Linked DNA regions of Homo sapiens: region 2 is linked to region 1. Evidence: fine-mapped expression QTL. A gene starts in region 1. The other region holds a variant in brackets. All regions are shown on one strand. Distances are from middle to middle.

What was found. PIP is the estimated chance that this variant, and not a neighbour inherited with it, causes the effect.
Region 2: its variant is the best candidate, but not a certain one, in a credible set for the expression of CWC22 in whole blood (TOPMed, PIP 0.64).

The regions. Positions count from the first base shown.
Region 1 is chr2:180,005,025-180,009,426 of GRCh38, reverse strand. CWC22 (CWC22 spliceosome associated protein) reads left to right here and starts at 2,130. Exons shown (of 20, transcript NM_020943.3): 1 at 2,130-2,560. RefSeq lists an enhancer at 2,450-2,982.
Region 2 is chr2:179,924,875-179,929,276 of GRCh38, reverse strand. No RefSeq gene overlaps it. Among named protein-coding and RNA genes, the nearest start is that of ZNF385B, 65 kb to the right of the region's middle. The variant A/C (reference allele first, on the strand shown) is at 2,585.

The DNA of each region.
Region 1 (4,402 bases):
AATGTGCACTAGAACCCTGGAAAAGTTGTTCCTGAAAGGTGTATGGAGACTGGGTGTATGGAGACTGTGACAGGCACAGAGAGATGCTGCTCAGATACCTCTTCAAGAAAGGACTTGCTTGTAGCCTAGCTGCAAGCAGTGTGGTTAGGTGACAGCCTTCAACTGTTGAATCTTCATGTCCACCTTGGGTTTTTAGTTGAGGCCACACTCTTCTTGGGGTGGCTCTAGCCAGTGACTGAGCAAAACTGGTACAAGGGCCTAGCCATTTCATCCCATTGTAGGCCTCTTCATCTTTATTCTGGAGCTACTATTTCCTCCATTTTCCTTTCACCTTTATTATTCATAACTCTTTCTCAGTGTCTGCTTCCTGAAGGACCCAACTGACAAATCCAATTCTTTTCCAGCTCCATCTAGTTCTCCTCTGCTCAACCCTAACTTTCCTATTTCTGTTGATAGTTGTAGAGGTAGTATATTCATCAGGGTTCCCTAGAGGGACAGAACTAATAGGATATAGATAGATAGATAGATAGATAGATAGATAGATAGATAGATACACACACACGCACACACACACGTATATATATCCTATTACATATATATCCTATTTTTTATATATATCCTTATATATATATCCTAATATATATATCTATATATAAGGATATATATATAAAAAGGGGAGTTTATTAAGTATTAACTTACACAATCACAAGGTCCCACAATAGGCTGTCTGCAAGCTTGAGGAGCAAGGAGAGCCAGTCTGAGTCTCACAACTGAAGAATTTGGAGTCCAATGTTTGAGGGCAGGAAGCATCCAGCATGGGAGAAAGATATAGGCTGGGAGGCTAGGCCAGTCTTGCCTTTTCATATTTTTCTGCCTGCTTTATATTCGATGGTAGCTGATTAGATTGTTCCCACCAGATTAAGGGTGAGTCTGTCTTCCCCAGTCCACTGACTCAACTGTTAATCTCCTTTGGCAACACCCTCACAGATACACCCAGGATCAATACTTTGCATCCTTCAATCCAATCAAGTTGACATTCAGAATTAACCATCACCGGTAGTATTGTGGGTTTTTAAATATATGAATACAAATGTTCATCTCCAGATCCATCTCCTGTGCCCTGTATTGGTGCACCAAAATGCACCATCAACAATGGCCAAATATCTTAAATATGAAATAAAATAGATAACACTATTGTATACTAGCAATTATCTTAAATGCATCTTGTGTATCAACTAATTCAATTCTTAAAACTACTGCCTGGATGGATACTATTGGTATTTCCATTTAACAGATCAGGAAACGGCCACAGAATGTGAAGTTACTTGCCCCAGTCATCCATAAATAATAAAAGGACTCAAGATTCAAAATAAGTAGTCCAACTGCAGTGTTTTTATTCTTAATCATCACACTCTGCCTCCAGAAAGGAGTGGAAGCACAGCACCCTAAAACTGTAATAGAGAAGTGTGTGGAGAAACCAGTCCTGGTTTATGAAAGATTTGATAACATAAAGATATTCTTGGTTTAGGAAGAGAGTTTCCAAAATAGCAAGTAGTTGAACTTTTAGGTTTTGTTACTAGTGAAAAGTGAAGTTTAAAGAAACTGTTTGATGCCCTAGTTCTGCACGCTGTACAAACTGCTACTTCCTACTCAGCCAGGCAATCTCTTTATTCTCAGGTCATACCAGTTGGTACCTTAACCTAAAAGAGAGGCAACACAGTCTCTATAGAATTAGTTTTTCCTCATTATTTCACTCTATTTATGATTTAATATTCTCCCATTCTTATGGCCTGGATATCTTGGAATTTATTAGGCACTTAACTGTTGGTCAAACTCTTATAAAGTCTCAGGAAAATCTCTCTCTTAAGATTTTTCAAGGAAAGTGACAACTGACTGCTTTTTTAAAAAAAATTTCCCCAAAATGCAGTGAAATAGTTTTAAAGTAAATTCGGCTAGACCCTGAACACTACTAGGCTGCCAGTGAGCAGCGTGGATGTTAACTCGCTGGCGCGCATCTGTATGAACTACAATTCCCATCGTACACCGCGCCATTTCACGCTAAACTACAATTATGCTTTCCTCATTTCCGTCAGCACAGGCGCTGGATTTCGGACTTTGTAGTTCATGCCAACTTCTCTTTTTTGTCGCCATTTTGGCAACAAGACAGTGTGCCTGGATCGACTACTTTGACTCTGGTATTATGATATGGTATTTGAAATAAATTAAAGGGATAACGTGTCAAGCCAATTGAGCGTCAAGTTTTTAAATATTTCACTATTCGCCTTCTTCCTACCGTCGGTGCTCGGGAAGAGGAAGTGACGTACGTCCGGTGTAATGGCGGCGCGGTGGAGCTCTAGGTAATTATCGAACTCCGTGGAGTCCCCGCAGGCAGAGACGCGGAGTGGGGGTGGCGGGTCGCCGGATCGGGTGGGAAGTAAAAGACCCCCAGGAGTGGGTGCGGGCTCACTGATACGGCTGTGAGCGGCATTGGAGTGTGCGTGGGTCTTCTCGCTACGCTCGGGCCCGCAAGAGGGGTGTGAGAGCGGCTAGGTCCAAGCAGGTGGGGAGGGAATGGGCTGCCATGAACTGACTGCCTGAGCGGACCGGCTGACCTTCCTTGTGAAGTTCCTGGAGCTGTCTGAAATCCTGCACCAACGCTGGTGCTGTGTTGTTTCTTGTGCACTGCGTTTTATACTTAGAGCCTCTGGAGTCCATTGGGGCTTGCCAAAGCCCCTTTCCTAGTGCCCGGGTCCCAGGGTCAGGGGAGTGGGATTAATGAGATCTAGTTGATTAAAAGTTAGTTGAATTACTTGCACTCTTATGCCTCTTGCCGGCATTATATCCCTTTGACTATTTGTTTTAAATTTCATTAGCGTCTTCTTTTTCATTTATTTGCCCTGTAAATACTGATAGTGTCTAGTGTTTAGTCTTGAAGACACTTCGCTTCTCATGTGCCCGCTTCATCTGTCATTCTTGATCCTTCCATAACTTGAACTATCTCCAGTGAGGTAATAACTGCCAAACTTGGGTCTCCAGGCTCCACCTCTCTAACGAGCTCTGGGTCCTACAACACAGCATTATATAACGGAAATATAATAGTTAATTTCACTGAGTTTAACTGCAAAAACCACGGTACCTATTTCCATTTAATCCTAACAATTCTTCTGAGGTAAGTGGAGAAGGCAGGATTTGGAGAAAGGCTATTCTAGATGCAAGAATTAGGTAAGAGTTTCCTTTGCATTTTTAGATGTGCAGAGACTCGAAATAGCAGATAAGCAAGCAAACTTGGTTCTCAGCAGATCAGTTAACCTACCTCTTATCTGTATTTAGACTTACCTTGTTTTAGGATTGCTTGTGAATTCAGGAGTTAACATAAATTATCATCCTACTATGGAAGGGCAGATTTAAAATTGACATTAAAAGTGTGGTTTTGACCAGGAGAGGAGAAGCATTGTTACAGGCGTTATCAGTAGGTGGAGGAAAGCCACTTGTGTTGGTCCTGGGTGATGGACTAGTAGACCAAAGATTTCTGTTTTATCCAGCTATTATTAGGTCTGTCACTTGGAGCAAGTTACCTAAAGTCTCTAGTGTCAGCTTCATCATCTGGAAACATGTAGGTAGTAATACAATACCTGCCTCACTGTATTGTCTTTTTTTGAGTATAAAGAAAAATAATGCAGATGAGGCACTGAGCACAGCGTTAGCGTTGTATTATTGTAAATTACTACTATGATACAGTTGATGAGTTCTCTCTGTTCCTCAATTCTTGTTCTCTGGTTCTGAATGTTGCCTTTCCACCTGTAAGTGTCCTTCCAGTTGTTTTTTGTTTTTTGTTTTGTTTTGTTTTGTTTGAGACGGAGTCTTACTCTGTCGCCCAGGCTGGAGTGCTGTGGCGCTATCTCGGCTCACTGCAAGCTCCGCCTCCCTAGTTCATGCCATTCTCCTGCCTCAGCCTCCCAAGTAGCTGGGACTAAGGTGCCCGCCACCACGCCTGGCTAATTTTTTGTATTTTTAGTAGAGACGGGGTTTCACTGTGTTAGCCAGGATGGTGTCTGTCTCCTGACCTTGTGATCCACCCGCCTCGGCCTCCCAAAGTGCTGGGATTACAGGCGTGAGCCACCGCTCCCGGCTAGTGTCCTAGTTTTAAGTGTCCATGCCACTTTAATGGAGTCTTTCCCAACTCAGTTGACTGGGGCTCTGAGACTGTCTTGGTTATAAGTTAAAGGCCAAGAACTTTGATCTAATACACTGGTGTATTGGTTCCAAAAATGTCTTCTGAATCAGCAGCATCATCTCCTTGAAGCTTGTTAGCAATGTAAATTACTGGGCTTCACCCAGTTCTGTTGAATCGGAAACGTGGAAATGGAGGCCCAACAGTCTGTCTGTCTTTTTTTTTTTTTTT
Region 2 (4,402 bases), 80 kb after region 1:
GGAATGATATGCTTTTCCTGTGTCCCCACCCAAATCTCAACTTGAATTGTATCTCCCAGAATTCCTACATGTTGTGGGACAGACCCAGGGGGAGGTAATTGAATCATTGGGGCTGGTCTTTTCTGTGCTATTCTCATGATGGTGAATAAGTCTCATGAGATCTGATGAGTTTATCAGGGGTTTCCACTTTTGCTTCTTCCTCATTTTTCTCTTGCTGCCACCATGTAAGAAGTGCCTTTTGGCAGGGCGCCATGGCTCATGCCTATAATCCCAGCACTTTGGGAGGCCAAAGTGGGTGGATCACAAGGTCAGGAGATTGAGACCATCCTGGCCAACATGATAAAACATCGTCTCTACTAAAAATACAAAAATTAGCTAAGCATGGTGGCACATGCCTGTAATCCCAGCTACTCAGGTGGCTGAGGCAGGAAAATTGCTTGAACCTGGGAGGCGGAGGTTGTGGTGAGCCAAGATTGTGCCACTGCACTCCTGCCTGGTAACAGAGCTAGACTCTGTCTCAAAAAAAAAAAAAAAAAAAAAAGTGCCTTTTGCTTCCCAACATGATTCTGAGGCCTCCCCAGTATGTGGAACTGTAAGTCCAATTAAACCTCTTTTTGTTCCCAGTTTTTGGTATGTCTTTATCAGCTGCATGAAAACAAACTAATACAGTTAAGGAGGCTTGTATTCTGCTGCCCCTCTTGGTTGCCTAGAAAAGGACAAGCCCCACAGAATTCTTTGTATCACCATAGCACTAGAGAGTAGGTTAGAAATTTCTGAATATAATGAATAGACAGAAGAATCGTAGGAAGTCTTAGAGTCCTTGTAAGACTCAACCAGGAGACGGAAGTAGCCAAAAGACTTTTCTGTGAAGATGACACTGAGAACCTGTGAATTTGTGATGCTGGGCTTCATAACAAGGAGGAAAAAAACACAGCAGCAGATATAATGTGGAACCCATGACTAGAGGACTAATGAAAACTCAGACACTGCTGGATTTTCCAGTGTAGAAGAGTGATGATAACTGAAATATTTCAAGATAGGCCCATGACAATCAGGAATGAGACACTCAACCTAGGGGAGAAAATGAAGAGCAAGAAAATAATGAATTCACTGGATTTACCCAAAATTGACTAGATTAACTTTTCTACTACTAAACAGAAAAGAATTCAAAATAGGTGTTGAATGCAAACAAAACTGTATACCTTATGATCTAGAGCAGAGGGGTTGTAACAATAATGCAGGGCCAGATCATGAAGAGCATCGTTAACTGTGCTATGGGGAGTCATTGAAGGGCTTCAAAGACAGGGACTTACAGGATCAGCTCTGTGATTTAGTGTTTCTCTCTAAGCAATGTGCAGGCTGGATTAAAGAACAGGCATATTAGAGGAAGGTGCCTAAGTGACAGAGTAGGTGGTGGGGAGTCATTGGGAGAGAGATGATTCATTGTTGAGGGACTTGCTTAGGATAAGGTTTAATTACACTAGATCTAATTTCTATGATAGGACACAAAACTTCTATTATATTGAAAGTAACTTTATCAAGAAAAGATTGAGAATCTCTAGGATCAAATCCAAGTTAATGTAATCATAATCCTGCCTGGATATAGGAGAAATAACATAAATTTATCTGAAGAACTTAATTTTGTATAGGAAGATTTAAGAGATAGTCTTATGTTATTTGAATATGTATACTAGCTCCTTTGCATCCACTTAGGGTGTAGAATATAGAAAGTCACAAGGAAACATTGCTCCTACCCTAATAAGAATGAAAGGGGATAACAAATTCATAGGTTTGATTCAGCAAAAGAGCTGAGGATGCAAGAAAAGACTAATGAACTAAATCAAAGTGAGAGAAGAAATCCTCAGCTACTCCATCCTTGTAGAAAAGCTGGAGGAGGAGGAAGCTGCCACAAAAGCAAATAAGAAGAAAATGGCTGAGCTTTTTAACATATTTTTAAAAGCCAAATAAAGGCTGGTATGATGATTCAGAAACCCTAAGTGGCCCATATACAAAGACAGTTTGCTCGTTTCAGATGTTTTCCAAAGGCCTCCACTGAGTCATTGCTGGCAAGATTGGGGAAGGACAGAGAAGTGGAGAGATCTATCCTTCAGAAGCACAGGCTAAAGTATGAAGGAAGACAGGAGAATGGAGGGAATTCCATAAAGCACTATGGGCCTGAGAATGGGGAGCTTTCTATGGTTGGGTGAGGGGTAGGACACTTGTGAGAGATGTCACTGCTCTTCTTAGATACAGGTGTTCTGGGCCTGCTGAAACCTGAAGGTAAAGCAGGACAACTGCGAGAAAACTTCCAGGCATTTCAGGCCTCACAAGTTTAAAGCAGCAGCCTACTGGAGCTGAGAGATAAATTAAAGAGCTGACAGATAATCCCCTGAAAAACAGGTGCACTAGGCATACCAAAGGCTAAAGTCAGGGAAAGAGAACTTAGGCAAACTCTCCAATTACTCAAATCTCAAGCTGTGCTAAAGGGAATATTCTAATCCTACCCTCAAACCTTTGAAGTCTGTGCTGAACTAAATCTAGAGCATCAGAAAGTCTATACTCATCTCAATTACAGATAGTTTAA[A/C]CTTCTCTCATTAACAGCCTGACTGAAAAGAAGGTACCCTTTTCTAAGTGAAAGTTTTATTTGCTTTCATCTCTATTCCTTTATACACAATGTTAGCATTTAATGAAAATTATGAGATACACAAGCAAGTAAAATGACTCATAATCAAGAAAGAAAATAGCCACTTGAATAAGACCCAAAGATGATCGAAATGTTGAACCTATCAAAGTGTTTAAAATAATCATGATAAACTAGCTAATGGTACTAGTAGAAAAGGTGAATAGTATTTGTGAAAAGATAGGAAATAACAGAAAAGCTGTAAAAACTATTTTTAAAAGAGCCTAGATATGAAAAAATATGATGACAAAGATGAAGAATTATTTTGTGGGCTTACAAGCCCAGAGTACATACCACAAGAATGATTTTGTGTACTTGAAGATAGGTCAATAGGAATTATATAAACTGATACAAAGTGAAAAATGAGAGAGGAAAAAGTGGAACACATGTCTGAGATAAGTGAAACAATATAAAATGATCAATCATACATGTAATTTGAGTTATAGAAAGAGAACAAAGAGAATGAGGTCAAAAATCCTAAACTGATGAAAATCCTCAGTGCACGTATTCAAGAAACTCAGCAAACTCTAAGCTGAATAAATACAAATTAAATTACACATAGGCACATCATAGTCAAACTGCTAAAAGAATCCAAGATAAAATGAACATCTTAAAAGCAGCCAGAAAGTAGAAAACACATTGCATACAGATTAATGACAATAAGAATGTTGACAGACTACTCATTAGAAACAACTGAAGGCTAGAAGACAATGGAACAATAGCTTCTAAGTGCTGAAAGAGTAAAACTACAATCTAGTATTCTATACCCAGCAAAAGAATCTTCAAGCATGAAGGTGAAATAAAGACATTTGCACATGTAGAAAATATGGAACGATATTCCTCTTTATCAGACCTGCAATTAAATTAATCCTAAGAGAATTTCTTAAGACTGAAGAAAAAATATTCCAGAGAGGAAAGGTACCAGATAAAAATTACCAAATAGAAATATATGTATATTCAAATTTCATTTAAAAACTATTGGTTGTTTAAATAAAAATTAATAGCAGTATATTATGGGATTCATAGCATAAATAAAAGTTGAATGTGTGAAAAGAATAGCACAAAGTGAGGGAGGGCAGTAATTAGAAGTTCTTTGTTGTAAGCTGCTTATGCTATCGATGAAGTCATAAATTAATTGCGAAGATATACTATGAAAGATAAAGATGCAGTCAGTCTTAGTCGACTCAGGCTGCCATAACAAAATATAGTAGACTGGATGGCTTAAACAACTGACATTTATTTCTTATAGTTCTGGGGGTTGAGAAGTTCAAGATCAAGGTGCCAGCCAATTTTGTTCCTGGTGAAGGCTCTCTTCCTGGCTACTTTCTCACTATGTCCCCATACAGTGGAGAGAGAAAGCAAGCAAGTTCTCTGGTCTCTTCTTACAATGGTAATAACTATATCACGAGGACCCCACCCTCATGACCTCATTTAAGCCTAATTACCTTTCAAAAGCCTCATCTCCAAATACTAACACATTGGGGGTTAGAGTTTCAATATATGAATTTTGAGGGAACACAATTCAGTCCATATAGTTGTGAATTGTAATCTCCACAAAGAGGTGCAACTAAAAAGTCAATTGAGAAGCTAAAATAGAATATATTATAAAAGACTTGATTCACTCAAGAGATGATAGAAACAGATATAAAGAGAAAATGGGACAGATAGAAAAAAAATCACAAACATGATAGAATTAAACACAAACACATCAATAATTGCATG